Linked DNA regions of Homo sapiens: region 1 is linked to region 2. The links come from fine-mapping of genetic effects on plasma protein levels. A gene starts in region 2. The other region holds a variant in brackets. All regions are shown on one strand. Distances are between the middles of the regions. Region 1 overlaps DPT (dermatopontin). Region 2 holds the start of DPT (dermatopontin).

Region 1 (16,656 bases), 21 kb before region 2:
GAAACAGACAGCTCTCCTCCCACTTCTCATCTTCCTTTTCTAGGCCATTAAACTGTGCACTGAAAAAGATGAAGATACCTCCCCAGGCTTTGGAATTATCAAAATAACTTTGGAATTCTTGATATTGATTAATATCAATACTATTCCTATTCTATTCAAGTCAACTAAGACAATGTTTTCAAATTTTAGATTATGATTCATTAGTTGATAACAAAATCAATTTAATTGGCTTTAAAAGAGACATAAAATAGAAAAGAAAATATAAAAGCATGCATCACATGCAGTAAGGACGAGTCTATGTATGTAAACATTTTGTTTCAAATATATATGTGTGTTTGTTTATAAGATGTACATATTGCGATAGTTTAATGTTTCTTATTGTGAGTTATAGTCAACAAAGTGTTCAAAAATTATTTAATTAAAATGTAAGCTCCCCAAAGGTAGAGTTTTTGCCTTGTCCACCATTGTTCATCCAGCACCTAAAACACATACATAATAAATATTAGCTGAATAAATATATGGCCTGGGGAAAGTCAATGAATCTGTTTTCTGATCTGTAGAAGAATAAAGTCTACCTTATAGGTTTGTCATTGGAACTAATAAAAATGAGTGATGAGTGTGCTATACTAGTACATGGTAGGTGTTGAATCACTAAGAACTATTTTGTTTCTTCTTCCTCTTCCTCCTTTCCTTTCCTTCTCTTCCAATATTGAGTAAATCCTGAGCCTTCATATGAGTAGGTCCATGGTAGTCCATCCTGGAATAAAGTCTAGAATCCCCCAGTTCTCATAAGGGCTTTGCCACTGGAACCTTCAGGACCAAAACAGTCCTTTTACCATGAAATAGCTCCTCCAAAGTCTTTATCCACACCCCAGGGACGCTTGGAAAACAACTAGTTTGTGAGTGTCAATAATTTCATCTGATTTGGGTTTACCAGATCACTGTTTATTAATGCTAGAAAGATCTTCTCCTCTGCAGACTGATGGTGATCTTTCTCCAAGATTGTCATTAAATCATGAAAAGATTGATTTATAAACTGTAAGGGCTCCTAGGAGGATCTCAGTGCACAGATGGAGAAAGATCAATGGTTAGCTCATTCTCTTGGTTCATAATCATTCCTTTTACCCATTATTCACTAACCCTTGTTCTCTGATTTGACTTTTCCTAAGACGTAATTATGCTCTATCAGGATGCCAAGTCCAACCCAAAGTGAGGTACCTGTGTTTTTGCTTAACGAGTTCATGAAGGGAAATAAGGTCCTGCAAATCCAGAAACTTATTTTGTGCTTCTAAAGAGATCCAGAAGCAGGACTTTACCTTTCAGGTAAATGTCTTTTTTTTTTTTTTTTTGAGACCAAGTCTCACTCTGTCACCCAGGCTGTTGCACACTGGTGCAATCTCGGCTCACTGCAACTTCCGCCTCCTGGGTTCAAGTGATTCTCCTGCCTCAGTGTCCCAGGTAGCTGGGATTACAGGTGTGTGCCACCACACCCAGCTAATTTTTGTATTTTTAATAGGGACGGGGTTTCACCATGTTGGCCAGGCTGGTCTGGAACTCCTGACCTTAAGTGATCCACCCGCCTCAGCCTCCCAAAGTGCCGGGATTACATGTATGAGCCACTGCGCCCAGCATGGTAAATGTCTTATAAGTAGAACTAATAGGGCCTTACTTGGATCCCACTGATTTATGATCCATGAGAATTCTAACAAGGACTGTATTAAAGTTAACCCAAGGAAAGAGAGGTTTGTTGAGAACATCAATAATGCAAATTAGAATAAGAGGTTGCATGGGGGTGGGAGGGGGTGTGTGTTTTCCTTACTTCAGGGAACAAAAAATATTTTCTAAAACTTTTGAAGCATCTCTGGATACAATGTGTAAAAATTAATTACCAAGTTGTGTGTTTTTTCTTTTTTTTGCTAAGGCAGAATCTACATACAGCAACACTGCATTAAGCTAAATCCAATTGCCAAAAGTATTTGGAAATTATGAAGCTAGATTTTTATTTTTTAAGTTTTTACTGACCACTCTGATCTGTCTTCAGATACTTGGATAAATATCACGGAATAAAGTGGGAAAGAAAAGCTTACCTTTAAAAACATCAAGAAGTTTTAAGCTTCAAAGAAGGAAAATGTTATTTCATGCTTTCTTTAATTAGGATTCTCTGTTGCTTCATTTTTGGTAGTGACCAGACATAAGCCCCCTGTCTAACTGGACAGTTTGTCCGAGAAGCCTCTCCATGAGGTACTGATGTCCAGTGAATTTCTAGAATGTCCTAGAGAAGGTGAGGTGCATGACCATTGGTACTTTTTCTTCTTGGTCCCAGACAGGTTTTGTTTTGTGTGACTTTTGGTTGTTGTTATTTTGTCTTGTTTTTGTTATAACACCATGGGATTGAGTTTAGACTGTCCTAGAGAAACCTGGGTAAAGGAGGAGAGGGAAGGAGGTTGGATATCGATGGAAATCTCTCCTACTTTATGAAATAAAAATACCAAGGGAGAAATGACCCAAATCACTGGTAGAAAGTGAACCTCCCAAACACCATCCATAGGAAGAACTATTGAGTCAATGTGGCCCAGGATGCTGTGTTCTGTATTTTCAAACCAGATATATGTGGCTGCATTTAGCGCTTGATGACACTGCATGTGCACGCGCACACACACACACGCGCACAAAGTGTCCTAATAAGTGAAAGCCCAGTAATAGCTCCTTAGAGAGAAAAAAGAATTTAAACGTTCAGAACTAGACACTGAGACAGGGCATAGGGACTTTTCAGGAAATTAAAAGAGGCTACAAGGAAGCAGAATGATCAGGGTTTCCTAAGCTGTGACACTGGGCTTTGCGAGTGTAGGTCGGGGAAGAGTTCGGTGTGGTTGCAGCTTCCTTGTGAATTCCTTGTGAATTACTAGGTCACTTTAAGCAGTTTTTTGGAAAAACACACTTCATACTGAGCATTGCCATACATTCCTAGACCAATTAAAACAATCAAACAAACCTTCAGCTTGGCAAGATGAAGAAGAGCGCAGGTCAGGAAGATGCCTTTATTGAAATGAGTCTACTTTTCAAACATTTCTATGGGAAGCCTTATTTTCTCCTTTCCCCTAAAGTAAAGTGTTTGAATAGATTTATTCAATTTTAGCTATTACTTAATTTTTAATAAAAACTACTGCTGTGCAGGAGAATGGCGTGAACCCGGGAGGCGGAGCTTGCAGTGAGCTGAGATCGCGCCACTGCACTCCAGCCCGGGCGACAGAGCGAGACTCCGTCTCAAACAACAACAACAACAAAAAAAGCAAAACTACTGGTGTGTGTGTGGGGTGTGTGTGTGTGTGTGCATGCGCACTTTCAGATGAATGACTCTTGTGGTACAGTTTCTCACTTCACAGCACTTTTTCTGCTGTCAAGATGAAAGACAGAGAGTTGTTCCAAAGCTAAGAAAAAACTTGATAACATAAAGCCACTTGCACAACTCTTGTGTCAGCTGAAGCTGATGGTAAAAAAATTAATAATATTTTACTTATGAGCTGAGGGAAATCAGTTCGAACTGAAGACAATTTTAAGATTGATATAGGATTTTTCTCATCTAAGATTCTTGAAGCTCTAAAATTATTAACAGATCCAACTGGACTCAATGAATGTTTGCTATGATACAATATCATAGACTGAGCTGCTGCTGATAGATGTCTCGGCTCCGTTGCCACAAGAACAGACATATTGCAGAGCTGAGTCCAGGTATACGCTCTCACATCCATTTTAGAAAGGGAAATAGAGATACAATCTAGTTATATACAGTGGCCAATTTTATTCATTGTCAGAGGTTGGGTTGAGAACTTATTAGGTTTTTAATAGTTAAAGTAAAGATTTTCAATCTATTCCTTGACATAAAGTGACTCAGCGTAAGGTTTTGTGAAAACCCACCTCTACGAGACCTTATTCGGAGCTAGACACTTTTCTTCTATGAAAGTCAAACTTCATAGCACTGAGATGTGTTTGTTACAGCTGTTTCACTTGGGGAAATTAGGGCAACTGGATTAGTCGGTGTCACCTGGAAGCTCCTCTTTCAGGACTTTCCCTCCAATTGATGTGCACATGAACAGATACAGCTTCATCTCATGGTCAGGAAACATCATATCCCCAACCTTGGCCCACTTTGTGGGGACACCAGAAAAGCACACACCACAGACTCCCTACCATAAAAACTGGAAAAAAACCCCAGCATTTACATATGAACAGATCAGAACGGGTACCTGAGGAAGCCATACTTCAGCTTTTTAAAAAATAAGAATAAAATTAGAATGTCTTCCAAATGATCTTTTATAGCCCAGCTTATGCTCAAACAACATTTTAGAGAAGCTTCTGTTGGTCATTCAATATTGAATTCTGTTTTTCTTCTATTTCTCTACCACTCAATTAGCACATTACTTTAAATATCCCATTCAAATGTCCTGTGACATGTCAGCTGATACAGTTTGGCTGTGTCTCACCCAAATCTCATTTTGAATTCTCAGATGTTGTGAGAGGGATCCAGTGGGAGGTAATTGAACCTTTGGGCAGGTCTTTCCTGTGTTGTTCTCATACTAGTGAATAAGTCACATGAGAGCTGATGGTTTTAAAAATGAGAGTTTCCCTGCACAAGCTCTCTTTCTGCCTGCTGCCATCCACATAAGATGTGGCTTGCTCCTCCTTGCCTTCCACCATGATTGTGAGGCTTCCTCAGCCATGGAACTGTGAGTTCTCCATTAAACCTCTTTCTTTTGTAAATTGCCCAGTCTCGGGTATGTCTTTATCAGCAACATGAAAATGGACTAATACATCAGCACTATATATTTAGCAAGATAATAGAATACTGTATAACATCATGATGGCCAATATAGTGAGCTCTTTGAGGGATCACTGGTGCATGGAATCAAATATGCTTTTATGATCTGGTTCAGAGGTGGGTTTGGAGGAGAAACTCAACATTTGCGGATTTGGTGTGTTGAGGTTGGCTTACGTTTTATATATTCAGCTAAAAAGATGTCCCTTTCTGACAGTCAAATCATTGAGAAGTTTGTTAAATAAAGCCAGTCTGTTCATGATCAATCCTCTTGCATAATGCTTTTCCAAGTAAGCTATAAGGAATGAACATATTTCAGATTAATTTAGTTTGTCTTTATTAGGAGCTACATCAGACCCCCTTTGAATTAGTTTTGTAAAGACAGAAAAAATAAACCCCAAATGGAGTTATGTGTAAAGGAAAACAGCCACAGAGAACAATCCCCAGGCTTCTTCCCACAAGAGCTGGGGATTGGCCAAGCGGGACCTCTGGTAGTCACCCAAGTGCCCTTCTCTGCACAGAAAATCTGAACCCAGGGGCTCTGAGGTGTGTGAAATAAAAACAAATGTCCATGTCTGTCCTTTTATGGCATTTTGGGACTTTACATTTCAAACATTTCAGACATGTATCACAACACGAGGGAATAACAGTTCCAGGGATATCTGTAGCTTAAATGAGTAGAGGAAAGTCCCTGAACACTTTCCAAATTGCTCTCTTGGAACTGAGTTTCTAACTCACTGTCCAAGCCCAGGGCTAGTCAGTAAGCACATTCACTTTGACTCGTGTTGATTTTCATTAGCCACATTATGTGGTGGTCACCCTGGGCCTGCATGTCAGTGGGGGCTACTTGACCTTCAACAGCTCCCCTCCAATTAAAATAGTTTTATTCTCTGTTTTCTACCAGATGCCTACTGTGCTATTATGTAATATTTCACCTGTAGAAGTCTTATTCCTCATCTAGAGACAGCTCAGTACTATGCAAAGAGCATGGGATTTGGAGGCAGATAGACTGGTTGAGTCAAGTTTGGAACTTTGAAGGGAGCCACAACTTCTATAGCTCAGTTCCCTCATCTGTATGATAGTATCATAATTTTTGTGTGTGAGGATTAAATGCAGTAACACAGGAACACGTGGTAAGTGTCAATAAATAAATATTATTATTATCATCATTATCATTAGTAGGGTCTCACCCAAAGCCTATGAATTGTTATTATTTCATATCCATTCACATTCATTGACTGCTTAAGTGAATTAATAAATAGAAGTAAGAATGATTGCCTCTAGAATCTATTATAGTAGAGGGAAGCAGACTAGATAGAATAAAGCATCAGATTTGGTTTGTAACTGAGAGGTTTACTTTGTTCTAAGTAGCTGGCCTTGGGTTAACCAATACTTAGCCAGACACATCTATGATATTTCTGCTTTTGAAGTTTGAACATAAGGAGAGAGGTATCACCTATAATGCAGGCACCAAATACAGTCGATATGGTTTGGCTCTGTGTCCCCAACCAAATGTCACCTTGAATTGTGGTTTCCATAATCCCCACATGTCATGGAAGAGACCCAGTGGGAAGTAATTTAATCAAGAGGACGGTCACTCTCATGCTGTTCTCATGATCGTGAGTGAGTTCTCACGAGATCTGATGGTTTTATAAGGGGCTTTTCCCCCTTTTGCTTGGCATTTTTTCCTGCCATCATGTGAAGGACATGTTTGCTTCTCCTTCTGCCATGGTTGTAAGTTTCCTGAGGCCTCCCCAGCCCTGTGGAACTGTGAGTCAATTAAACTGTTTCCTTTGTTAAGTTACCCAGTCTCGGGTATGTCTTTATTAGCAGTGTGAGAATGGACTAATACAACAGTCATCAGTGGCATCTGCAGGGGATTGATTCCAGGACCCCCATGGATACCAAAATTTTCAGAAACTCAAGTCCTTGATCTAAAATGGTGTAGCATTTGCACATAACCTATGAATATCCTCCTGTTTACTTTAAATCACCTCTAGATTACGTATAATACCTAAGATAATGCAAATGCTATGTGAGTAGTTATTATACTATATGGTTTTGTATTTGTATCATTTTTTATTGTTGTATTGTTATTTTTATTTTTATTGTTTTTTTCTGAATATTTTTGATTCAAAGTTGGTTGAATTCTTGGATAGGGAACCCCAGATATGGAGTGCCAATTGTACATGTCTACATTTTAAATATGGCACAATAATTATGGAAACCATTCCAGCAGATGAAAGGGATGATAGATTTTGCTCAAGTTCAGAGAGGCTGCTGTCTGCACAATGAGTGCTATGTACATCATGCAATGGAAGGCAATGGTTTTAGTAGGGCGCAGAGCATCTAAACCCAATATAAGTTCCTTTAAATTGAGACATCTAGTCCAATTTCCTCAAAACTTAAGTATGTCCATCTCTATAGTAATAGCTTCCAGCTTGCGCAGAGGACCAGTATGGAAGCTGCTCTTCATTTTTATTTTTTTATTTTACTTTAAGTTCTAGGGTACATGTGCACAATGTGCAGTTTGTTACATATGTATACATGCGCCAGGTTGGTGTGCTGCACCTGTTAACTAACATTAGGAGATATACCTAATGGAAGCTGCTCTTCTTACCAGGCCTCTGGGAGCTGAATTGCAGGAGGCTGTCTGGGCACAGGTGGCATATGACAGGCACAGCAATGCAGAGGCCTGTGAGATTGTTCATGTCCCTAAAACAGCATTACAGGAGTGAACATGCAAACACTCCCTATCTTGTATTAACATCTGAACAAAGAGGCTAAGAATTAAAGATTAGCTTTGACTGGGTGCTTTGGGGTGGGAGAGATAAGAATGTTCTAATCAACTGATGTTAACTAGAGCTATACAGGAATTTAAAAAAAGCACTCTCTGGCTTATGACTTGCACACAGAGAGTGGGGAAGTAGGCAGTGGAGAATGCAAAGTCTGAGAGACAGAATATCAGGGTTGAAGAGAAAAGTAAAGGTTACCTAAATGGATGCATTATTTTACAGTCAAAAGATATTATCCAATGAACCTAATGAAAGGCCATGGGTCTGGAGAAGAGCCATTTGGAAAAGAAAATGATTCACAACCATCAGATCCTGGGACACAGAGTCTCCGCCTGGACAGTAGACAGTCTGGTGTGCAGCCTGCAGCTGCTGAGCTGTTTGGAGAAGAGAGATTATGACAAACAATGTCTAAAGGGTTGTGGCAACTTCAGTGACATGTGTTTGTGGTTTGCAGACCACTAGACTAAGAATTAGAATTTTCATATCTAAATAAATATCTATAAAATTCACTATTCATCCAATCCAGTGGAGACCATTTCCTAATGGCATGTCCACATCTCTCAGGAATTTGCTTTCTTGCCAGAGTCCAGTGAGGCTGTAATATCCAAAGAGAAACCGCACAAGCTGAAACGAGAGCAGCACCTTGGTTCCCACCAAACAAATAAATCTCATACTCATTTGGGAGTTGGTTGGATGATTTGTTTTTTCCAGCCCAGAGTGATGATATTTCTGAATCCCTAAGTGCTCACAAACGCAGGCGCTAGATATTCACTTAGCTAGTTCATACGGTGTCAGGCTGCGTGCTGAAGAATGCCTTTCAAAGAGGGAAGGGGAAAAATGTCGTTCCCACCCACATGGGTCCAGTTCCCTGGGAGGTAATTCAAGCTAATTAAAGTCATGTAAGGGAAGGTTTCAGATAAGAGGGTTATCAGCATTTCACTGTGGGAAGGTGCAGGAAAAAGAGTTCTCACTTCACTCTGTAAGGCTGTTAAAAGGATCAAATAAAATAATGTACATGAAAGAAGTCTTTGTCAACTATAAAACATCATCACATCAATGTCAGGTTTCACCATTGTTACTGTTCCTAGGGGCTTGCAACATTCAGTTATTCATCTGACACATTTATTAAGAGTCTATTTTGTGCTGGGTAATATCCTGGAGATGTTGAAAAAATAAGACCTAATTTATGCCCTGGAGGCATTTAGAAAGACATATAATACAACATCATGACTCAGGCAATTTAAAGATGCCACTAAAATGTCTAGACACACCAGCGGGATAGTGAGTCATACACTGTGTACCATGGTGCACACTTGAATCTTGTTCTGCTGCTTCTCCAATGTTTTCTTTGAAAAAATACCATTTTATTTGGTGACCGTGATAGCTCTCAGCTCTAACACCATGCCTTCAGAAATAGAACCA[G/GC]CAGGTGGAACCACACCTTAGTGGGACTTGTTTCAAAGTTGACTTGTCATGCCTTTTGGATTAATTCTCTGTACTTTCCCCACCTTTTGGCTCCACAGACCAACAGCAACATGTCTGGATGGTAGGATGGGGTAAGGAAGGGTAAAGGGTATGGGGGTTGGGGTGGGTTCAGAGTGGCAAAGTCATTGCAGATCAAGGCTTTGGGTAAACTTTGTGAGCAGAGACATGAATATCTCTGGCAACTCAAAATTGCTCATCTTTATCTATCAATCTTTAACATTGAGACTTTGTTCCTACATATATGTCTATATGATCATTACATTTTTAGCATCTTAGCTGGTGAATTGCATCTAAGGGAGCTTGAGAAGCCTTTCTAAAGTATGTGAGAGGAACGATACCTAGCATTCTTGGGGAAGCAGAAGTATCCTGGAACCAGTCTCCAGGTGACCACTGGAAATCTGGGGCATCATTAAAACAACGGTGGAACTGGAAACACAAAGACCTGTCTTTTTCAGGTCTCAGCATTCAAATAAACAGACAGGATAAGCTTCAAGAAGCAATGCTCAGAGTGTTAACACAGATCCCACAGATCCACGGAATATGGGAATTCCAGGAAAATTTAGATGTTTATCCCTTTCTCTCACACTTACCTTCATCCACCCCCTATTTCTTCTGTTTGACAACTTTGCTTTTTTTTTTCTTCTTCTTCTTTTTTTTTGAGTCAGAGTCTTGCTCTGTCGCCCAGGCTGGAGTGCAGTGGCGTGATCTCGGCTCACTGCGAGCTCCACCTCCTGGGTTCATGCCATTCTCCTGCCTCAGCCTCCTGAGTAGCAGGGACTACAGGTGCCTGCCACCAAGCCTGGCTAATTTTTTTTTTTTTTTGTATTTTTAGTAGAGAACGGGGTTTCATCATGTTAGCCAGCATGGTCTCGATCTCCTGACCTTGTGATCTGCCCACTTCGGCCTCCCAAAGTGCTGGGATTACAAGTGTGAGCCACCATGCCCGGCCTTGACAAATTTTCTAAAACCAGTGAGCCTTAGCTCCTTGCCTGCCTGGTCACCCAAAGCCTTGAGGCCCAAGCCCACTATCTGTTGTTGTTCTGTTTGGGCAGGGGCCAGCCAACCATGATGGCATGGCCACAGACACAGCAGGCTCTCCCACTCATCTCTGCAGAGACCTCGAGCCTTGCTGTGATGAGGAATGTTGCTGCCTCAGCTTACTCCTCTCTGCCTGGGGAAGAATGAGTTAGTACATCTAACAACAGACTGTCCAACTGGTCACATGTCTTGTTCCTCTGCATAACCAACCCCGCTCTCAAGTTCTGCTTCCTGCAATGACCTGACACCTGCTAGGTTGTTCCTGGGCAGAGTTTGCCTTTGAATGTCCTGTTAGTTGGTGAGGAGGCTGGGTCTCTCCTGCATCTGGGAGGGTGAAGGGGACTCTGTTTCAAGACAGGTCAGCTCTGTGTGATCATAGACAGTGGCAAGGCCAGAAATATATTATCTTATTTAATGCTCATAACAAAAAGTAGCCTGAAGTCATTCCTTCATCCAAACAAATGTTATGTGCCTGTCATTATTTATAGGGCTTGGCATATGTCAGCACAAAGATCTCTGCTTGTGTAGAGCTTATATTCTGGGCAGAAGTGGAGGGATGGGGGAGAGAACAAAAAATTTTATGTAAGAGAATTATATTTTCTGGGCCACTTCACATTATATACACCCTCCACAATTATTAATGTGGATATTTGTTCAACAGTTGTTAAGAAGACACTATGTTCCAAGCACTATACTGGGCATTGAAAATACAAAGATCAGTGAGTGGCCCCATATCCTCCAGACACTGGAAGTCCAGGTAGAGAGGAGCAACTGTACACAGGTGGTAAAATGCATAAAGTGCTGTGACAGAGGCATCTACGAAGGGCAGAGAGACAGAGCCACCAACATCCAGGCCTCCAGCTGCCCCTAGGCTGTCCATGTTCCCCTTCCTCCCCACTGCAGCCCGTGCAGGGCTACCTCCTCACCTCCTCACTCTTTCCCCTGCTCCTGAACCCACTCCTCCTGGCCACCCAGCATACCCCAGCCCTGATGTGTTCCTTTGGAGTCTGATTCAGGGAAAGTTATACTAATGTAGTAAATAAATTCACTGACTGAGTATTAGGTTTTGCTTGCTCTTTCAGGTAATTTACATACATTTTAACTGGCTTTTAATGCTTTGCAACAAAGGGAGGCTGGTTTCCTTGTGGGAAGTGCCATTCTGTTAATAGACCAGGAATGAGAGATTTGTGGAGGCCAAGCTCCTACCTACTCTCCCCTTTCATTAGGGCGCACTCGTCTTTGGAACTTCCTTCATCCTCTCAAAACAGTTCTGGCATCTGGATCATCTTTTCCAAAAGTGTCTTTGGAATTAAGACATTTTTAGGGTTCAACACAACCTGAAAGATCTTCTAGTCCTTGGAATTTCAACTTATGATCCAGGGGTTCTTGGCAGTGTGTTCATGAATGGCCTTCAGGGAGTTTAAGGACTCCCGAAATTCTCTGCAAACTATTGTATTAACATGCTAAGTGCATTTTCCCCCCTGAAGACAAGGTCTATAGTTTTCATCAGAGTCTTAAAGATCTTGGAGACTCAAAAAAGGTGGTCATCATTTTAGGTGATGTGCTTGAGCCTGCAGAGTTATGAGAGGGAGGGGAGAAGGGGAAAGGGGAAAGAAGGGAGGGAAGTGAGGAAAGGCCAACACAGAGACTGAAACTCAAGTTTCTTTTTGCCCAAACTGGTGCTCCTTCTACCTCCTCCACTGCAAGAGATCTTTAGGTCTTTGGTTCAGGACCTATCCCAGTGGCATCGTAATCCTTTGCCAGGCCTGTTCACCCACTGTAGAGGAGTAAAAGCTGCTTTATGGAAGCGATTTTGAAGAACTAGAGGAGGTTTCTGCTCCATCATACAGTGACAGGTGACTTTGAGCTCTGAATTTACTATCGGTCCTTACTTTAAAAAGAAAAACGTTAAGCTTTTGGGGCTTTGTATCCCTAGAGATACTGTGTGCCACTGGGCATCTGTGGAGTAAGCTGTCTGATTGCAGAGAATAAGCATGACCTGTGAAGCTGTCCTTGCAAGCATCAAACTGTAGAGAGATCAATCACTTGAGGGAGCCAACCTTCACATGTTGACACTTCTGGATCCCCTTGCCCAAGGCAGAAATGCCTGGCTCATTTTCAGATTAAAAAAACCTGGGCCGGTTGTGTTATCAACACCCAGTGTAAGTCATCAGGGCAAATGACAATATACACATTCTCCTAGTCAATTGGAAGGCTAGGTCAGGAGATATTCGGCATGAGCCCAGGGATAGGGAAAGAAACAAAACATCAGAGGCTGGAATTCCAAATGGATCCAGAAAACAGCACAATCTTTTTTTTTAATTTTTTAATTTTTTAATATTTTATTTTTTCTGTCTATAACTATGTACTAGACTCTGACCCATGAGAGGATTGGTTTCTCCCAGAGAAAGACTACAGGAAACTAGGTTCCCAAATAGGCCCTGCAGCCTTGGATATGATGAGAAGTTACCAGAAGTTGGGGAGAAGGAGAACAGCACTGGGATGGGAGTCATTAGGCCTAAGCTTAAGACTTGGCATTCCCACAGAGTAGGTGGGTGACTTTGGGCCAGTCAGTGCCGGCTCTATGGTTCTGTTTCCTTTTCTGCCAAAAGAAGGATGTGGGGGGTTGGATAACCTGAAAGATCCCTCTTGGCGGGAACATCCTCCTAAGTCATTCATTCATTCTTGTCTATATGCCAGCGCTGCCTTCCAGGCTTGTGTGTGACCCTCAAGCTTACCTGAAGCTAGAGCACTTCCTAGGTGCCTCTCCCACCCCAGGAGTCATGAGGGTTTGGTCGGCTGCCAGACTCACCAGCAGGAATATGGGCACCTCTTGCTGTAGCGACAACAGTAAAACTGCCACTCCCGATCCAGCACTGACTCGAAGTAGCGGCTCTGGAATCCTGCCACCAGCCCATTGTTGGAGCACGTCTGGTACCTGAAGAGAAGACAACCCCAGGAACCTAAGAACAGTGACACATACACAGACCCCTTCCCAAGACCCCACTGCCACAGTTACACACTCTTTCTCTGACCTAGATTCTTAACAATTTATTCCATTTTATGCAAATAATAGTCTTTATTATATTTGTAGAAATAACATAGCCCCTCCATTAAAATTTAAGTGACTCAGAATTTTCTAACTGAACAAAATTTAGGGAACACTGCCCCTGTCATACCTCTTTCAATATATATTGTTAGATGGAAGCCTGCATAAATGGGTGGATCTAGAATTTTACATCTAGAATTTTACAAATTCGAGATTGTATTATTCATGCCATTTAAAATAAAAGGTATTATAATTCATTTTACTGGAATTTAAAATAAAAAGAAGACAAAGAGAAGCACAACGTATTGATGAATTTCAAATAAACATTTCTTCTGCCTAAGAGAAGAGCCCTGGAAATTGAGCACAAGGATGATCATTCGTTCTGCCCCTGCACAGCATGCAAAGCCCAGATGGGCATGGTGAATGTGCCCAGGGCAGCCCAGTAGGAAAGCTGGGACCACAACCCAGATTCTTCCTACTTATCCAGGAATCTTTCTACCACCCACAAGACCATAAGCTCTACACAGCCATGGCATGTTTTTCTCAGAATTCTATTCCTGGTGGCCACCAAGAATCCTGGCTGTGGAGGCAGTCCTTACAGAGTTGCAACAGGCCAACTGAATGCCTCAAACCCCCTCTAAAGATCCCTTTCCTGTCCTAGCTGCTTAGTCCTAATTCTTCAAATATATAACCGCTCCACTCCAGTCCACAGACAAGAAATAATTTTTGCTCTTTCATTCTACCTGTGCTGCTGCTGGTCTTCACAGCACCTTTTGAACTAAACATTGACTTAGAATAGTACAATCATTTCTTCCTTTGTTCCATCTCTAGTATGATTTTCTCCCATTCCTGGGCCCAATTCCTATGGCGTCTTCAGGCTTCCCACTTTTTGCTGTGATGATAACACTATTTTCTACCTGACCACAGTGGATTTCCACTGTTCTTGCTACTTATCCAGGAATCTTTCCACCACCCACAAGACCATAAGCTCTACACAGTCAGGGCATTTCCACTGTTCTTGCTACTTATCCAGGATCTAGAATTTTACATCTAGAATTTTACAAATTCAAGATTGTATTATGCATGTCATTTAAAATAAAAGATATTATAATTCATTTTACTGGAATTTAAAATAAAAAGAAGACAAAGAGAAGCACAATGTATTGACGAATTTCAAATAAACATTTCTTCTGCTTAACAGCAGAGCCCTGGAAATTGAGCACAAGGATGATCATTTGTTCTGCCCCCACACAGCATGCAAAGCCCAGATGGGTATGGTGAGCCATGGCCCTTTGATGAAATCCAGTGGATTTCCACCTTATAGCATGAGCTCTTTCACAAACCCTTCCAAAATAGTTCTTCAGTTACCTCTCCTTCTTTGCATTTCCCACCATCCCAGCCATTGGTCTATCCCCTCTTATGAGTGGGCAGAGCCAGAGCAGGCAGTTGTCTATGTGCATGGCCAGACAGCTGCTGGAATGCAACCTTGTATTTCATGGGAAGATAAGTTTTCAGAAAATATAATGCATAAAGTAAGTACCGTGTGCTGACTGGTGAGAGAGGCCTTGTTGACACACAAATTGTAACATTATCAACAAGTGGATTTCATTTATTCTTTTCCATTGCTGAAAATGAACTTGCAGATCTAACAAAATTAGATATTAAATATATTACTTGTCTGTCATCAGAAATCATCCGTCCTTTTAAATTTATTATTTATTACTTGTTATTCATTTATTCACCTAATGTATATAATTCAAATATGCATTTATTTATTTATTTATTTATTCATTCATTTATTAAACATCTCATACTCTACTACTGTTCTGTATCAATCACTTTGCTATTATGTTGTGAGAAGAATTGAGAGATGGGCTCGGTATTCGGTCAACCATGTAAATTAGCTTGAATTCCCTGTTCCCAGGACTTGTAAGAAGTTCTGGCAGACTAGAAAACTCAGCTATAGGGGCTCAGTAATGCAGGTTAAGGTGTAAATTGAGACCTATGGCTCTTTGATGATCTAGCTTTTTTTTTTTGGTATGTGCAACTGTGTAGTTTATTATACATGTATCTAGGTTTTACAATTTTCTTTTATTTTACTTTAAGTTCCGGGATACAAGTACAGAATGTACAGGTTTATTACATAGGTATATGTGTGCCATTGTGGTTTGCTGCACCTATCAACCTGTCATCTAGGTTTTAAGGCCCGCATGCATTAGCTATTTGTCCTAATGCTCTCCCTCTCCTCACACTCTACCCCCGACTGGTCCCAGTGTGTGTTGTTCCCCTCCCTGTGTCAATGTGTTCTCATTGTTCAACTTCCACTTATGAGTGAGAGCATTCACTGTTTGGTTTTCTGTTCCTGTGTTAGTTTGCTGAGGATGATGGCTTCTAGCTTCATCCATGTCCCTGCAAAGGACATGATCTCATTCATTTTTATGGCTACATAGTATTCCATGGTGTATATGTACCACATTTGCTTTATCCAGTCTATCACGGATGGGCATTTGGGTTGGTTCCATGTCTTTGTTATTGCAAATAGTGCTGCAGTAAACATACCTGTGCATGTGTCTTTACAGTAGAATAATTTATAGTCCTTTGGGTATATACCCATTAATGGGATTGTTGGGTCAAATGGTATTTCTTGTTCTAGATCCTTGAGGAATCACCACATTGCCTTCTACAATGGTTGAACTAATTTACATTCCGACCAACAGTGTAAAAGAATTCCTATTTCTTCACAGCCTCGCCAGCATCTGTTGGTTCTTGGCTTTTTAATAAACACCATTTTGACTGGCATGAGATGGTATCTTATTGTGGTTTTGATTTGCATTTCTCTAATGATCAGTGAGGTTGAGCTTTTTTTCATATGTTTGTTGGCCACATAAATGTCTTCTTTTGAGAAGTGTCTGGTCATATACTTTGTCCACTTTTTGATGGGATTGTTTCTTCTTTTCTTGTAAATTTGTTTAATTTCCTTGTAGATTCTGGATGTTAGACCTTTGTCAGATGGGTAGTTTGCAAAAATATTCTCCCATTCAGTAGGTTGCCTGTTCACTCTGATGATAGTTCCTTTTGGTATGCACATGCTCTTTAGTTCAATTAGATCCCATTTGTCAATTTTAGCTTTTGTTGCAATTGCTTTTGGTGTTTTTTATTATGAAGTCTTTGTCCATGCCTGTGTCCTGAATGGTGTTGTCTAGGTTTTCTTCTGGGGTTTTTATGGTTTTGGGTTTTTACCTTTAAGTCTTTAATTAATCTTGAGTTAATTTTTGTATAAGGTGTAAGGAAGGGGTCCAGTTTCAGTTTTCTGCATATGACTGATGTAGCCTTCTTCATTCTACCATTGCTCGCATCTCATCAGGAGTATACTAATCACTTTGTAAATGCCTGGCATACTTCAGCAAGCTATATGAGTGGAATGGACTAGGCTCATGATATGGTGGAAAGGTAGCTTTAGGGGCTGATCTACCAGGGTG
Region 2 (16,656 bases):
AGTCTGTCTACAAGGTTTTAACAGTGAAGCAGAAATGACCTGCAGAACAGCATCTCTGGATAGAAAGACCTAGCACAGGACAGAGCGAGAATGCCTCCAAAAATACAAATTCCTCAGGTTTTTTTGGAAAAATACAGGCAGGAGAGGCTTCCCCTAAGGCCTCTGAGAAGATCTAGATTATCTTGTGAGATGCATTTATGTCCTGAGAGCAATTCCAGGTCACACAGGAATTGCATGAGCTACATTAGCATCACAGTAAATTTGACGTGAGTTTATGAATATCAATTATAATATTTTTAAACAAGAGATCTAATGCTATCTCCGTGTCTATTAAAATGTAATAAATATTCAAGACACTTATAATGTACACATAATATTTATAGACTGTGATTAAATTATATGTTCCAAAAGCAAAATGATATATTTCAGAGGCTCTGTAATCTAGCAATTTGGTTTTCAACTCCAGCTTTGTAATTTACCAACTGTGTGATACTTGTCTCCATGAGTCTCAGTTTACACAGAGTAGTCATGATAAAGTAATAATAAATAACCTTTATCAAGGACTTGCAATGTGCAGGCATTGTGCTTAGCACTATGCGTGCATTAATTATTTTAATTATCAAAACAATCCTATAAAATGGGTTCAAATAATGAGCTTCTCACCACGATCACCATTTTACGTATAAGGAAACTTAGGTTTAGAGAAGGTAAGTAATTCCCCTAAGGACACAAGTTAATGTACATATATTATCTTATTTAATTCTCACAACAACAGTTCTAGGGAGGTGTGTTTTAGTTGTGAAAGCTGAGTATTTCGGAGTTGAGACGACTTGAGTAAAGGTAGTAGTGGGGTCAGTGGGGCTGCATTTTGAGAATTGTTCTGACTCTAAACTTCATTAACTTTTCAATACTTCAAGATCCCTCAAAGAAACACACACACACACACACACACACACACACACACGATATCTTAACTCTGCAGAAATCTCTTATTGATTGAGAAGATTGTGTCCTGCAGGTTCCCAGACAGAAGCAAATCCCCTCCTGGGAGGAGGGAGCTTTTGCCATCCTTACAAGAGCAGCCAACAACCATTTTTGCAGAGCTCAAGTTCCCCCAGACAATTGATTCCTAGCACTTAGGAGAGTGACCTAGATGGAAAGTTGGCAAGAATCCTAGATCTGTCATAACCCTATTCTCCCACACTCAGCCTTCTTGCCCTCAGAAGTCATCCTTAGGTGGATTTGATATCTTTTTTAGGTCAGCACTCACTATGGCTTTATCCAGGAACAAAAATAACATCAGCATTTCATATCACCCACAGCACTGTGGAATCAGGCTGGCTGGCTCAGGTCCTCCGTCTGCCATCTGCTAGCCATGCAAGGGCAACCTCCTCATGTGTGAAACACCTGGATTCCAATACTGTTGTGAAGATCAAACAATATTAGCTTTTGAATAACTCATGGGCATAGACTGTATGTTATTCATCTCCATCTTCCTGGGGCCTGGGAAAGTTTGTGCTAATAAGCATTTGGTAGTGAATGAATAAACAAATGAACATATAAATGAGGAATACTCTATAAATCATAAATCACCACGTAGATCAGGGTTAGGGCCATAGAACCTATACTTATGTAAAGTTATGGATTTCTCTCCTAATTCCAAACAGAATTGCTCCATGACCCATCTCTCCCCTTCTACTGATATTTATATCTACTTTTGTAAAAAGAGGATGACAGTTCCTAACCTGACAGCAATGTTTTTATTCAGTTTTTAATTGCTTCAGTCTCATGGCCTTTATTCCTATTCTGTGAGGTAAGGAGGTTGCTCTAGATTGTGCCCAAGACCCCCTCCAGTGCTGGAATTCCACGATTCTGTTGTACTATATTTGTGCTGCATCCTTATATTTATTTTTTTAAATTTTATTTTGAAGTAATTTCAGATTTACAGAATGCTTGTAAAGACAGCACACAAAATTCATGTATACTCTTCACCCAGGTTCCTCTAATGTTAATTTTCATAACTCTAGAGTGTCTAGGAATGCTAAGAAATGCTAAGAAATTAACCTTGGTATAACACCAAACTGATTTCATCAGTTCTTCCACAAATGTCAAACCAGGATAGGTTACTGTGCAGCATTTAGCCCTTATGGCTTTTGAAATAAAGAGTTTACTTTCAATTTTTGAAATTGATCGAGACCTTAAGATTATTGAGAGAATGAAAACCTGATAAAAACTTCATTCTGCGGCGGCAAAGTGTGTCAGCCATCCTCTGTGCATGTTTTAGCGATCCTTAAGAAATCTTGAAAGACCATCCTGCATGTTGGTAAATGCAATAAATCAAAATGAGATGTGAACAATACAGTTGGAACCCCTACTATAGACACTGGAATATTGGGAATCAAAGACATAAGCAAAATGGTTCCCCTGTGGGAAAACCTGCAGGCCTCCTTGCGGAGGGCCGTGGGGACACTGGCTGGGGTTTGGACTGCTGATTTGGTCTTTCACTGCATATGTATTGAGGGCCTGTTATGTACCAGCACTTGTCTAGGCACTGGGGATACAGTGGTGAATGAGACAAAGCCCCTGTGTTCATGAAGCTTATATTTTAGTGAGGGAGACAAAACAAGAAACAAATGCCAATCAGGTAGTGACAAGGGCATTGTAGGAAACAAAGCAGGCTGAGGGAGTGGAGACAGCGAGATGTGTGGGGAGAGGAGGTGGTCTTGGAAAGCATCCCCGAGGAAGTGGGCCCTGTGAGTACTCAATACTCAGAACCATGACTCAGGACGACTGCCCTGAACTACACTGAGGCTTGGTCTTGCTTAGATTAGGGAAATAGTCCGACCATGGAAAACGGAGTTCCCACCCAACCTCTCCACCTTCAAATGCACCTCGATGCTGCCATAGCCCTGTTGCATAGATTCTTTCTCCTCTTCTCCAGTCTGTGGCTTGTCATTGAATTCATAAACTCAGCTCTAACACAAACTGCCACTCCAAAACTTCTCCTTGAGATTCTTTGAAGCCCGGGGTAAAAAGTAGATACCAATAAATGGACCACTTTTCCTCTGAACTCAGACTCCGTGGAAAGCTGGCTTGCCCAACATCAGCCACATCAATTTCAGATTCACTAAACTTTTACTACCTGCCCATGATGTGCTAGGCATTTGTTTTAGACTTCAATTTGCTTTAGAGTTTTCTTATACTTTATCCTACAAGTATCACAGTAACACAAGTAGCAGCTTGTGAGGTGGGAGTCACACCTTCCTTTTTCTTCCTTTGCTTTTCTTTCCTTTCCATTCCTTTCCTTTCCTTTCCTTTCCTTTCCTTTCCTTTCTCTTTCCCTTCCTTTCTTCCTTCCTTCTTTCCTTCCTTCCTTCAATCCTTCCTTCCTCCCTCCCTCCCTTCCTTCTCTCTCTCTCTTTCTTTCTTTCTTCTCTTTCTTTTTTGCCAGAATGAGATACCGAATGTCACAGATACAAGCAGGAGCTGTGAATCCAGGTTTCCTGCATCCAAGCCCAGGGCTCCTTCCGCTACACAGTAGCTCAATCTCACTAGAAAATTTCACCTTCATCTTATTCCACACAGGACCCAGTGCCCTACAGCCTGTGCTGACCCAAGTTAGAGCAGATTCCCTGAGAACAACCTAGGCATGCCCTGGGATGGTGAAATACCACTCATGGGGACCCAGGTAAGGCCTCCTGGTAGTTGTTAGTGCCAGAGACCATCATCCAAACTTCAGAAGCCGGCACTTGAAGAGGTGATTTTCAACAGAGAAACTGTGATCAATGGCAGCACCACAGACCACTCAGCTATGATGGCAACACCTTTTAAAGATGGCACTTTGATTAGAAAGATTTTCTTTTTAGCAGATCCTATGTGCTATTGTCAAGCCTATATTCGAGACTCCTCCCCTCTTTTAAAATAAACCTGAAAGCTAATTTGGTTATACAAGGCAGCCCAACTGCACAAAACCATCAACAACTGTTCCCTGAGAACAGACTAAGCCTGTAGCCAACGTCAGATGTAATAGCTCCCCAGCCCATAAGCAATTTCTTTCCTTACAGATTTTTCACTGAGACTGGAGGCTGAACTCAAAGGCATAATCATTTTTAAAAGTGCTTCCAGGGTAATTCGTGTCAGTCCTGGGGCAGCTGGATCTTATTGTAAAGAAGTTGTTTTGCATGTTTGTGAGTTTTCAACCCTGTGATTAGTAGACGGGGAGAAGGAGGCAACAGAGGGTGGAAGGAGGAAAGGAAACCAAAATTACTAGACACTGCACACCCAAAAATGCCGAGTAAGAGGAGGTGGAAGAGGTATCTCGCCTATCAGCTTTTCCCTTGACTCCCATGGGCCAAATAAAATCATGTTATTTCACCTTCTTCCTCTTTTGCTTTTCTTCAAATAGTTTGGGAGTTCATGACAAACCAGTCACAGTTGGCAAGTTTAAAACTAAACATCATTTGGCTTCTCTCTCTAGCAGGGATGAACACAAAGATCAACAGAATGCAAGAAAAAGCCAAGAGTGTTTTCAGGGGTGAGCCACAGCTCTGTGGAGCCTTCAGAGATCATGCAGCCTGACTGCTCACTTTCCAAATGAGGCGGGAGACTGGAGGGCTGAGCGTCTGGGCCAAGGTCACACCACAAGTCATTAGAACCAGGATCCAGACCCAGGCCTCCTGATTCAGAGCCTAGGGCTCTTCCTCTATGGCTTGGGGAACCATGGCTGAGTGCTGCTTGACTGTGGCACAAAAAACGGCTGTTAGAAAGGAGTCGCACCCATGCGATAGTGCTCCTGAGAGGTGAGGACTGGAGGGACAGTTGTAATTAGGTCATTGCCATGCTCCACATTAGGCAGTGGGCCTGGCTGTGAGGAGTCATGGAGACAACAATCAAGGTGAGCCTGGTCTCTGAATCAGCATCTGTCAGAAGGGGTTTTGAATAACTAAATCTGCTCACCAGAGGCCATGGGGGTGGATGAGAATGGCCCACAAAGGCTGTCCAAGCAGCCTCCACAGCCCCGGCACCCTCACCTGCTGCTGCCTGTGTGAGTCCTCTCCCCACCCCTTCTACAGTCCGGCTGAGCCCCTCCACAGTCCTGGTAACCAAGTAGGGATCATCCCTCTGGGGCTGGGCTTCTGCTGTGGTCTTGCAGGTCCCCACCCTCTCCAGGAGGAAGAACTGCCCTGAATCTGGTCCTGTGGCACTGGCTCTGCTGACAGAGTCAGCTGTCGGGTGGGAGCCCACTCTGGGTGGAGGCAGCAGCCTCTCAGGAGCCCGTCACTGTGGCAAAGTACAAACTCTTTGAAGCAAAGACTCTGTGGATCCAAACCCCAGCTTTCTAGCCGAGGAAATACTGGATCTCTAGACTGCAGTTTGTCTACCTATAAATGGGATATACCCTTGTTTTGAGCATTACACGAGATGATCCACATAAAGCACTTAGCATGGAGCCTGCTCAGGGTAAGCACTCAATAAATGGTAGCTGTTGTCATTACTTAAAGGCCCGCTCTCTTTCCTGGCTCCCCCACCCATCGGTGTTTCTTCCTCTTGGATTTCCCATCATCACCTCTCTACTGGTTGTGTCCCCCAGGGTTCTATGCTTTTTCTTTTTTCTATTTTCTTTTTTTTTTTTTTTTGAGGCAGAGTCTTGCTCTGCCACCCAGGAGGGAATACAGTGGTGCGAGCATGGCTCACTGCAGCCTCGACTCCCTGGGCTCAAGTGATCCTCCTACCTTAGCCTCCTGAGTAGCTGGGACCACAGGCTGCATGCAACTACACCGGGCTAATTTTTTTTTTTCTGTAGAGATAGGGTCTGGCTGTGTTCCCTAGGCTGGTCTCGAACTCTTGATCTCAAGTGATCCTCCCTCCCCAGCCTCCCAAAGTGTTTGGGATTACAGGCGTGAGCCACCACACCTGGCCAGATTTTGTGCTTGACCCCTCCAATCCCCACTACACTAAGTACTTGTTGCCACACATCTGGGTTGCTCTACAGATAGCACATGCAGCAGCCCTCCAGGTGGGCTTCCTCCTCCCTGGACTGCCTCCTCCGTTCTCTCCTCCAAGCCTCCTAGAGTGCTGGCTCCATCTAGGCTGTTGTAAATAATCAGCCTAGCAGTCAGTGCCTACTAGGATGAGCTCCTGACCAAGCACCTGGGCTGAGACCCAGCTGAGACAATCACACCCCACAAAAAAGTACAAGCTCGAAAAAATTCCATGCCACTGCTTAAGGCAGAATGCAGTCAGGGGAAGACAGCACCTCTCTCCAAAACCCTTTAGTAAACTATTTTCCAGCAATAAAACCCACTTTAAATTCAGGCAGAGAGAAGGACCTCAGTACTCATAATTGAGAGAGCACATTTAATCAAGGCAGTAGACAGCTATTTAATTCCACTTTCTTTTGCCTAAATGTCCTTGTCCCCTCTTTTCCATTCACTTGCTCTAAATCAATAGTTCTCAAACCCTCCGTGCTGAGAGATCAATTGTTTATTTTTCTTGTTCCCAAACTACTGTGGGCCAGTACTTTTGTAAAATGGTAAAAATAAATTTCTAAAAAAGAAAAATGCCATTCCGATGGCACAGAAAGTTTTAATTTCTATAAAGTTTATTACTTTCAGTTTCTGTACATATCTTTTGGTAGTCTGGTAAGCAAGCTTCTCGCCGACCTACACCAGCCCCTGGCCCAAACTGAGAGTAGGTAGAACAGCTTCTGGAAGGAACAGAGCCACAGAGGAGTCTGTCTCCCACAGACACTCCCCATCCCAGGTTTTTGTCCTGTCATGTAGTCCGCTCAGCAGCAGCCCTGCTCCACCCAGAGCATGCAGTGGTGAGGTTTGGGGTGGGATTTGCCCAGGCTTTGGTTACTGATATTCCTTGAGAGTCTAGCAGCCCCCAGGAGGAGGGATATGCAGAGATGTTCCCAGCCCCAGTGCAGTGCAGGGACTGGCCCTTACCATTCCATGCCAGCCCTGTTGATCTCCTCCCACCAGCACTCCGTGGGTTCCCCGAGGCTCTGTGGCGTGGGCATGCAGGCGTAGTTCCATTGTCTGTCAGAACCTTCCTTCTTGCTGAAGATGCTCCTCACGGCCACTATCACCTGCCCCTGGGGACACTGGTAGCTGAAGCCTTGCCGGTTCAAATTCACCCACCCATCATCGCTGTAGTCATGATACTGCTGGTATGGGTATCCATAATCGCCATACTGGCCCCAGGCCATGGTGACTAGGGGCAGAAGTACCCAGAGAAGACTGAGGTCCATGCTGCCTGGGATTTTGGCAAACAATGTCACTCTAAGATTGCTGGTCTGACCGTTTTATATAGCTGCCGCTGACATGTGGCTTCCAGATGTGGGTGAGAAGGATCCAACTGCAGTGTGTCATTGCTTAAGCAAAACTTTTCCATGCTGAGATGTCAGCCATAAGGACATTCAGCTTGTTTTAAGGTGGAATTCTAGGAATATACCAGCAGCATGTAAGTCTAAGAAGCTCCCTGGAGAAAGAACAACTTTGTATCTAGATTATAAAAGCCAACTGCTGCTCTACCCTGTAGAAATATTCACTTGAAAAACACTGATTAGTAGCATATTTGTCCCTCACCTTTCAGCACCTCACCCCTTTCTGTCCTACCCTACCCGCTACTAGCAAACCCCTGTATTTGTTCTCCAAACTAGCCTTCCGGGCCACACAAATACCCAGACAGTGATTTCAAAATACCGAAATCATAGACTGAAGTAACAGAGCCATCTAGGATTTCTGTAAGGCTGAATGCCTGTTTTTTTTTTTAAGTTGTCAATCCAACACTTTTTAACCCTTGAGTATAAGCGCGGGTATACCAGTTTGCAGGGCTACTCTGAGAACTCATAAGTTGCATAAGGAAGTACTATGGGCCCATGGGGAGATAAGTTGGATATGATTTCTACACTTAAGCATTCTACCATGCTGCTGAAATTGGACCCAGTCAAGTCTAGAAAGTGTGCTCTGCTCTCAAAATGTAATGGGTTTAATCTAAATAAACCCCCTATTTATCCTTCAGTATTTTTGCCCTCACATTGAATTTTCTTTTCATTGAGTTATAATTTACATATAATTAATTCACCTTTTAAAATACATAATGTACAGTAACATAGCCAGCACCCTAATCAAGACTTAGAACAGTTCCATCAATCCAAAACATCCCCTTATATCCCTTTGCAGTCAAATCTTCCCAAACACCCAGCCATTGGTAACCACTGATTTACTTTCTGTCTCTATGGTTTTGCCTTTTCCAGAATGTCAAGTAAATGGAATCATACCACACGTAGCCTTTCATGTCCATCTTTCACTTAGCATAATGCTTTTAAGGTTCATCCATTTTAAAATTCAACATCTCATTGTATGTGTTAGTATTTTGTTTCTTGTTATTGTTGAGTAATATTCCATAGCATGGATGTACCACAGATTGTTTATACATTTACTAGTTGAAAGACATTTGGGTTGTTTCCAGTTTTTGAAAATTCATTACTTTTTATGTAATGAATTTTATATTCATTATATTTTATATAATGAATTACATAAATGTAATTATAAAGTTGATATAAACATCTATGTATAGGTTTTTGTGTGAACAAATTTTTATTTCATTTGGGTCAATACCTAGGAGTGAGATTGCTGGTTCACAAGGTAATGTATGTTTAACTTTAAAAGAAACTACTGAGGCCGGGTGTGGTGGCTCATGCTTGTAATCCCAGCACTTTAGGAGGCCGAGGCGGGCGGATCACGAGGTCAGGAGATCGAGACCATCCTGGCTAACATGGTGAAACCCCGCCTCTACTAAAAATACAAAAAATTAGCCAGGCTTAGTGGCGGGCGCCTGTAGTCCCAGCTACTCGGGAGGCTGAGACAGGAGAATGGCGTGAACCCGAGAAGCGGAGCTTGCAGTGAGCCGAGATTGTGCCACTGCACTCCAGCCTGGGCTACAGAGCGAGACTCCGTCTCAAAAAAACAAAAAAAAGAAAGCAAGAAACTACCTAGCTGATTTCCAAAGTGGTGATACCATTGCCCACCACTACCAGAAAATTGCCATTAAAAAATTTTAGCTATTCAAATAGGTTTGTAGTGATATTTCAGTGTGGTTGTGATTTTCATTTCTCTAATGATCCATGATTTTGAGCATCTTTTCATGTGCTCATTACCCATTCCATGCATCCGTTGATGATTTGGCTTTTCAAATTTTTTGAAACCTTTGGGCATCTCTTAAGCACATAGTATTTCCCATTTCTCATCAGTATTGTTCTTAAAGTTTCTTAGAATTGTGATCATAGACCAATTCTATCTACAGCCTCTGTGAAGTTTGTTAAAATGTAGACAGTGGCTCTTCTCCAGGCCTGCTAAATCATAACCTCACAAGGGGTGCTCAGGTATTTATATTTTAAAAAATTTTCCAGGTGATTCTTATTCACATCAATTGCTAAGAGTCACCTTCCTAAAGGAATGTGGAGCCAGAGAAAAATCACACTATTAATCCCACCATCTGCCTAGCCTGTGGCACATTTACCAGACGGTATTCAGTCTAGATCAAACACCAAGATAGTCTTGAAAGGGAAAGACAGTCATACATGAGAATAAAGCAACAAGTAACTCGTGTGTGTGTGTGTGTGTGTGTGTGTTTGTGTGTGTGTTGGGCATGCAGTTTTCTTTGATGATCATGGTTACTGAAGCGAGGGGGAGAGGATCTGGGCTGAACAGCTATGTGAGGCTTAGTTTTGTTTTTAGCACCATCTTCTCCCACCACTTCCATCCGTAAGTAACTGCCCAGTGCTGGCATCGGAATTCTTCCTAGCTTAGAAGGATCTCTCTGATTCATGATATGCTGAAGCAATCATTCTCCACCTTATCAGCATTTAAGGATTACCTGGAAAGCTTTTGGAAACCTCCAGAGTCTAAGCAATTTCTGGACCAATCAGATCAGAAGCTTCTGAGCAGGGTCCTGACAATGACGTCCTTTGAAACCTTCCCTATAGGCTTCTCACCGGAAGCCAGGGTTGAGAACCTCTATGCTAGAGGGTTTTTTTTTTTTTTTAATTTTTTCAGTTTATCATCCTGATGCTCATGAGTTGTATCTTGCATTCTGGACATGATATGAGCTATTTTAAACCTTAAAGAGCTCTAAGAGACAAAGCAGATTATCATAAACACTCATCTTTATTATACATTTGTTTTCCAACAATTTCCAGGGCCTCTGCCTGATCTCCACTCTCCGCAGATTTCTTTCAACTACAGCTAGAACTACCTCAGCTGGATTCCCTTTAATGTGCAAAAATAAATATCTTCATGCTATGGTCCAGTTTTAATATAGATTTCTGTTACTTAAAGCTGAAAGCAACCTAACTCATCCAGTGTCTCAGGAGATTCCAGAAACTGCTGATGCCTTTGAGAGAGATTCTGGTGGCCGCATAGAGAATGATTTCCATACGCAGACATTGAGAACATAAGATTAATGCATTTACAGTTGACCATGTGTTTTCAACTAGGTTACTATGTTATCTTCCTCATAACTTTATATGTTAGTGAGGCATTATTGGAATTAGTTTCTCACAGATGGGGAAACTGTGGTGAGAGAACATTTTGGGCCAAATTTCTAGAACTGGAAGGATATGACCCCATGTCTTCTGATTCCCATTCTGCAATGCCTTCCATCATTTCATCAAAGTTACAGTTACTAATTATAACATTTATGAATAATTGTCAAATAATGCACTTATAAAGTATGTATATTAACATACACATATAACTAATTTGCGCTACGCATTTCTGCTGTTATTTGAAAAGTCTACTCAATAGACCCTGGGGACTTTAAAGAACTAAATGTTCAATAAGTAGTTTTTGGGGTGTTGCTCTAAAACCAACAGCATCAGCGTCACCTGGGAACTTGTTAGAAATGCAAATCCTCCGGCCCCTCTCAGACCTACTGAATCAGACACTGTAGGAGTAGAGCCCGGCAATGTGTGTTTGAACAAGCCCTTTAGGTAACTTGATACTCACTAAAGTGAGAATTACCGTATAGCAGATAATGCAGAACACTCTACCCAAATTCCAGGTGTCACTTCTCGAGAAGTTATGTAGTGATACTGAAGCCTAGATAACTCAGTTCACTAATTTTGATTCTGGCGCCCACACAATTCACCACTGGGCTATCTTACCTCCTAGTAGATAATGGACTTGAGATATTTTGGAGATTCTGACAAAGAGCATTCAAAAGTCTCCATGATTCTTCTTTTTCTTCTACCTCTTATTCTTCTTTTCTCTCTCCTTATCCTCCTCCTTCTTCGGCTGTATTGAGATATAATTAACATACCATACAATTCACCACTTAAGGTATATAATTCAATATATCCCTTAAATTAGTATGTTCACAGAGTTTATGCAACCACCACCGCAAGCAATTTTAGAATATTTTAACCACCCAAGAAACCCTGAACACATCAGTAGTCGCTCTCCATTTCCCTTCATCCTTTAGCCCTAGGCAACAATCAATCTACTTTGTGTCTCTATGGATTTGTCTGTTCTGGATATTTCGTATGAATAGAATCATTCAATATGTGGTCTTTCATGAATAGGTTCTTTCATTTAGCATAGGTTTTATGTTAGCGGTTCATAAGGTTCATCCATTTTGCAGCATGTATCACTAGTTCATTTCTTTATAATGCCAGATAATACTCTACAGTATACATCTACCATATATTATTTATCCATTTACAAGTTGATGGACATTTGAGTTGTTTCCACTTTTTGGCTATTATGAACAGTGTTGCTACAAACATGTATGTAGAAGTATATGTGTGGACATATGTTTTCATTTCTCTCAGGTATATACTCAGGAGTGGAATTGCTGGGTTATACGGTAATTTTGTGTTTAATCTTTTAATGACCTGCCAAACTGTTTTCCAAAGCAATCGTGCCATTTTACATTCTTACCAGCAGCGTATGAGAGCTCCAATTTCTTCTCCACATCCTCACCAACGCTTATTAAGTCTGGGTTCTTCTGAAAGGTGTAGGAACTCATAGCCACTCTGGTGACACTTTTTGCGACCTGGATCCACTCCTGTCTGGCAGCTTTCTCAAACATATAATCCCTTTTTGAGAGATTCTGAATATAATACTTTGCCCGATTTTAATTGAGAGCACCTAGAATGGCCCTAGAATCAACTCATTCCTAAGTTACTTTTACACTTTCTGGATTGGGGTAGCTGCTATTGTATATTGGGAGGGAATGATGTAGACTTACAGAGGTCACCCTGGAGCAGACCTGATCCACTGGAGAATTCCAGATGTGACGTGCTGGCCCCGAGGAGGGCTGCTCAGACAGGAGAAGGCAAGGCTCATGCTAGTGCCTGGGTGAAGCTGGTAGCCCCAGATGAATGGATGCTTAACCCAAAATATTGACTGTGAGTTATTGGAGGATTCCATTTTGCCTGCTGTCTTTTTTCCCTTTTAACTCCTGTGTATAATCAGGACTTGGCTGCAGCTCTAGGTGGCCAGAGTACTATCACAAACTTCCCAGCAAGTGTATGCTGAGCCATCCGTGGCTTTCCTCCAAAATGAGTCTGTGCCAGTTTCACGGTTTAGCTGAGAGAGGCATTCAATAGCCTCAGTACACCCAGGCTGTCCTCACCTTCAGCAAACTTGCCACCCTTGCATGACCCATTGCTTTTTAAGATCATTTGTGGAACCCACTGTCATATCATTTGGGGTTAGCCCCGAGGGCCACCAATAAGGTTAAAAATGCTCATACTGGAAGCAGCAGGAGAAAGAGTGACAATCCAAGTTGAGGAAATAGAGAAGATTGGGAGGAGTAGAATAAGGTGCACCTACTGTGTGCTAAATACTGTACTATGTGCTTTACATATGATAGACCAATTGACCTTCCAGCAGTTCTAAGAAAATTAGGTTCAGAGATCACTGGTAGCTCACCCCAATTTTCACAGCTAGTACAGAAAGGTGACTTGAATTTGTTAGTAACTATACTACCCCAAGTGCCAAATGGTCACAGCAGGGCCTCAGAGCAGTGGCAGATGGTTGTGAGAAGAGCAGAGACTCCTAAAATCCAAATATCTAAGTTAAAGTTCTGGTTCTGCAAGTAATCAAAATGACCTTTTGATTTGGGTCAGATAGTTTTTTGTTGTGGAGGCTGGCTGCCCTGTGTATTATAGGATGTTGGACAGCATCCCTGGCCTCTATCCACTAGATGCCAGTAGCATCTTCTCTTCCACCACTGTGACAATCAAAAATGTTCCAGACATTGCTAAATGTCTCCTGGAGGGAAAAATCATCTCTGGTTGAGAACCACTGAATCAGACAAAACCCATAACCTTTGTTTTATCATCTGTAAAATGGAGGATAATCACAACACCAGCCACTTACCACGAGATTATTGTGACAGTCATATCAAATAGTGGTCTTGCAAAGACTTTGTCAAGTGTAAAGCTTGAAACAAATGTACGTTGTTAGTCTGACCTCAGGGTAACACTAGAAGCTGGAGTTGAGGGAACAATCATGCATATTAGTGTAATGAACAGCCCCAGGACTCCGCAGGGCAGAAGAGTGTTCTTGTGCAGATGATGACTGGAGGGGTTTGGGAATGAGTAAAGCTGGGGGAATATGGCTCCACCACTCTCTGGAGTTCCATTAATATGTGGATGAATGTCAATCGCAGAGGTTCCTGAGAGTGAGTTTGCAGGGAGAGGTGTCAGGATAACAGGGCTGAGCACTAAAGGCAGAGTGAGGGTAGAGAATTCAGGAGGCTTGGGAACAGTAGGCAGATGGAGGAGCTATCGTGGTGGAGAAGAAGCTTGGGAACTTGCGAGCTTGGGAACCAGGACTGTGTCTTGGGGTGAGAGTAGGGATGGGGATGGGGATGGGGTGCTGCTAAGCCAAGTTAGCTCTGAGACACTCACAGAAGGAAGCTTCAGGGCCCAAGTGCCTAATTAGTGTTCTGGGGTCTGTGAGGATGAATGAAGCACAGAGATGTATGTGTAGGTGCTGGAAATATTGCTTTAGTAAATGTATTATATGCTCATAAGTGGAGGAACAGAGTTCAGGATACTGGTTACAACCTCTGAGCTCATGACTCGCTAGAGACCATGGTTAAAAAAAAGCGCGGGAGGAGGTTCATTGGAGAGATTTGGTTACAAACGGGGGAAAAGAAAGAAAACAATTTAATCAGAAAGTGCTTAAGTGATGTCATTTTAAGCCAAATTTTCTAATTTGAAATTGGGTTTTTAAGTGGGTAAACCTAAAGTTTATAAAATAAATAACAGCCCCTTTCATTTGTGTAGCATTTGGCACGATGTATATAAACCACACAATCCAGCACTCAATAAATATTTATTCTTTTCCATGTGCAGGGATTTAACAGATCTCAGTTCATCTTTGCATTGGTGATGGTAGTAAAGTTGGCTTTCTTATTTCCATTTTATCAGTTTGGAAATAGAGGCTTTGAGAGGTACAGTGATGTCCAAAGTTACAGAAATATTGGGTGACAGGGCTTGGGCATAAGCCAAAGTTCCCTAGTTTGAGCCCTGCCAGTTCTCTTGGAGGACACGGCATTGAGGGATTTGGTGACACATCCTTTAGGGAAGCAAGGTGGCCAATTCTAGAGCACTTTGCCAGTTCACACAGTTTGTCCAAGCCTTTCCCTCCTACAATCCTGAAGGCAGGTGGTGGGGGCAGGGCTTTAGCAGGAGGAGCAGCCTCCCTGAAAATAACATCCTCCCATACAGGACATCTCTGCTGGTGCCGTCCTCCAGTGCGTTTTCTGTGTGCTGCTTCCTCTGATCAAGCTCGGCTTGCTCTTTAACCAAGATTCACGCATTCTTGCTCCCATTCCTGAAGCTACAGATTGGCACCTCTTTTCGGCATTGTTCAATCACGGTACATCAACTTCAGATAATGGACTTGGTCACCTAAGAAGCATACTGTCTCTCCCAGCTCTAAAAACACACACCCACCCCAAAGTATTGATACATGTGAGGTCCACAGACCACCTGCATCACAGCCATGGAGGCATGTTAGAGGAAGATTCCTGAGTTTTTGACAGCCTTGCTTCAGTGGAATCCTGGAGGTGGGGTCCCGGAAGCTGCCATTTTTTTTTAGACGGAGTCTTGCTCTGTCACCAGGCTGGAGTGCAGTGGCGTGATCTCGGCTCACTGCAACCTCCGCCTCCCAGTTCAGGCAATTCTCCTGCCTCAGCCTCCCGAGTAGCTGGGACTACAGGCGCGCCACCATGCCCAGCTAATTCTTGCATTTTTAGTAGAGATGAGGTTTCACCATGTTGGCCAGGATGGTCTTCATCTCTTGACCTCATGATCTGCCTGCCTTGGCCTCCCAAAGTGCTGGGATTACAGGCATGAGCCACTGCGCCCAGGCGGAATCTGCCTTTTTAACGAGCTTTCCCACATGACTTTTATGCATCCCGAAGTGTAAAACCACAGGCTAAGGTGCATAAGGATGTTTATGATTTTGTAAGCTTCCCAAGTATGAGGCAGAACCAGGCAGGGCTCCTCTGCCAACTACCCTGTCGTTGGTTACAGTAGAAATACTCCCCTGGCTCTGTGGCCTGTGGGCTCTGCTAAGGGCTTTGCACCCTAATCCTGCTCTCAGGGAGCCCACCACTTGCCTCCTGTCACACACCACCCACACAGGCAGTGACAGAGCAGAACTGAGAACTGCAGGAAAGGCAGCAGCTCAGCCTTCTTCTCATGCCTGTCAACAGCCTGGAGCTGAGCACGCTGCACACTAATGAGTACTATTTTCTACCCCAGCTTTTTAAAATGCTGCAATATTAACAACTACCAAAATAATTCAACTCTCTACAGCAGTGGGTTGGCTTAGCCGAAAAAGACACCAACGGGGCTATGGCATCTTTGCTGTGTTGCTAAAGCCCTGCAGAGTATATGCACGTGCACATGCACTCAAATAGAAATGCACATACTTTAATTTATCAGGAAAACTAAATGAGACAATACATGTAAATGTACCGTGCTTGGAACAGAGCCTGGTACTGCTGGTACAAAAAACAATCAGATGTCATTTTGCAAGGGGATGTACTGAATATTCCCTATTTACTTTTCAGATCTTTCTCTTTCCTGCACTGTGTTCTAGGAGGCTTTATGTGCTACCTTAAGGTGCTCTCTTGCCCTCTGGTTCCTGCTTGGGCTTGGCCAATGAGAGGCACCAGCAGAATATGGAAGGATCAGGAGAGGGGTCAAAATATGAATTCCCCTGGCTCCCTGCCACCAAGGCCTGGTTGGCAGTGGCCAGGTTTCTCTCCATGCAGCCTTAGCTTTTGCTGGCTGGCCCCCTTTCCAAGGGAAATGCTTCTGCTAGGTTCCAGCAACCTCACTCCCTCACCCTGCAGCTTTAAGACTATAGGGGTGATCTTACCGTGGTTTATAGCTGTAGCTGGCCCTGGGATGTTCACAATTAACCCTGCTCACATCTCTGTACATAGTTATTTCATTAATTCTCTCCAGTCACTACTGTTGAATATGGACCTGTTTCCTGCCAGGACCTGACTGATATAAGGAACAACTGTCTGGATTTGATCCAAGGAAGATCCTGAAACAATATGACTGTCTCCAGCACTGGGCATCTGTCTCCAGTTTCTTGTGGTCCTTAGGTGCTC

Evidence for each region. PIP is the chance, under the fine-mapping model, that this variant and not a neighbour inherited with it causes the effect. Sun 2018 read protein levels with aptamers (SomaScan).
Region 1: its variant is fine-mapped to the plasma level of the DPT protein (Sun 2018, PIP 0.95).

Annotation. Positions count from the first base shown.
Region 1 is chr1:168,701,281-168,717,936 of GRCh38, forward strand. DPT (dermatopontin) reads right to left here. Exons shown (of 4, transcript NM_001937.5): 2 at 12,941-13,066. Among named protein-coding and RNA genes, the nearest start is that of DPT, 20 kb to the right of the region's middle. The variant G/GC (reference allele first, on the strand shown) is at 9,031.
Region 2 is chr1:168,721,920-168,738,575 of GRCh38, forward strand. It overlaps DPT (dermatopontin), which reads right to left and starts at 7,287. Exons shown (of 4, transcript NM_001937.5): 1 at 6,951-7,287. The coding sequence starts at 7,255.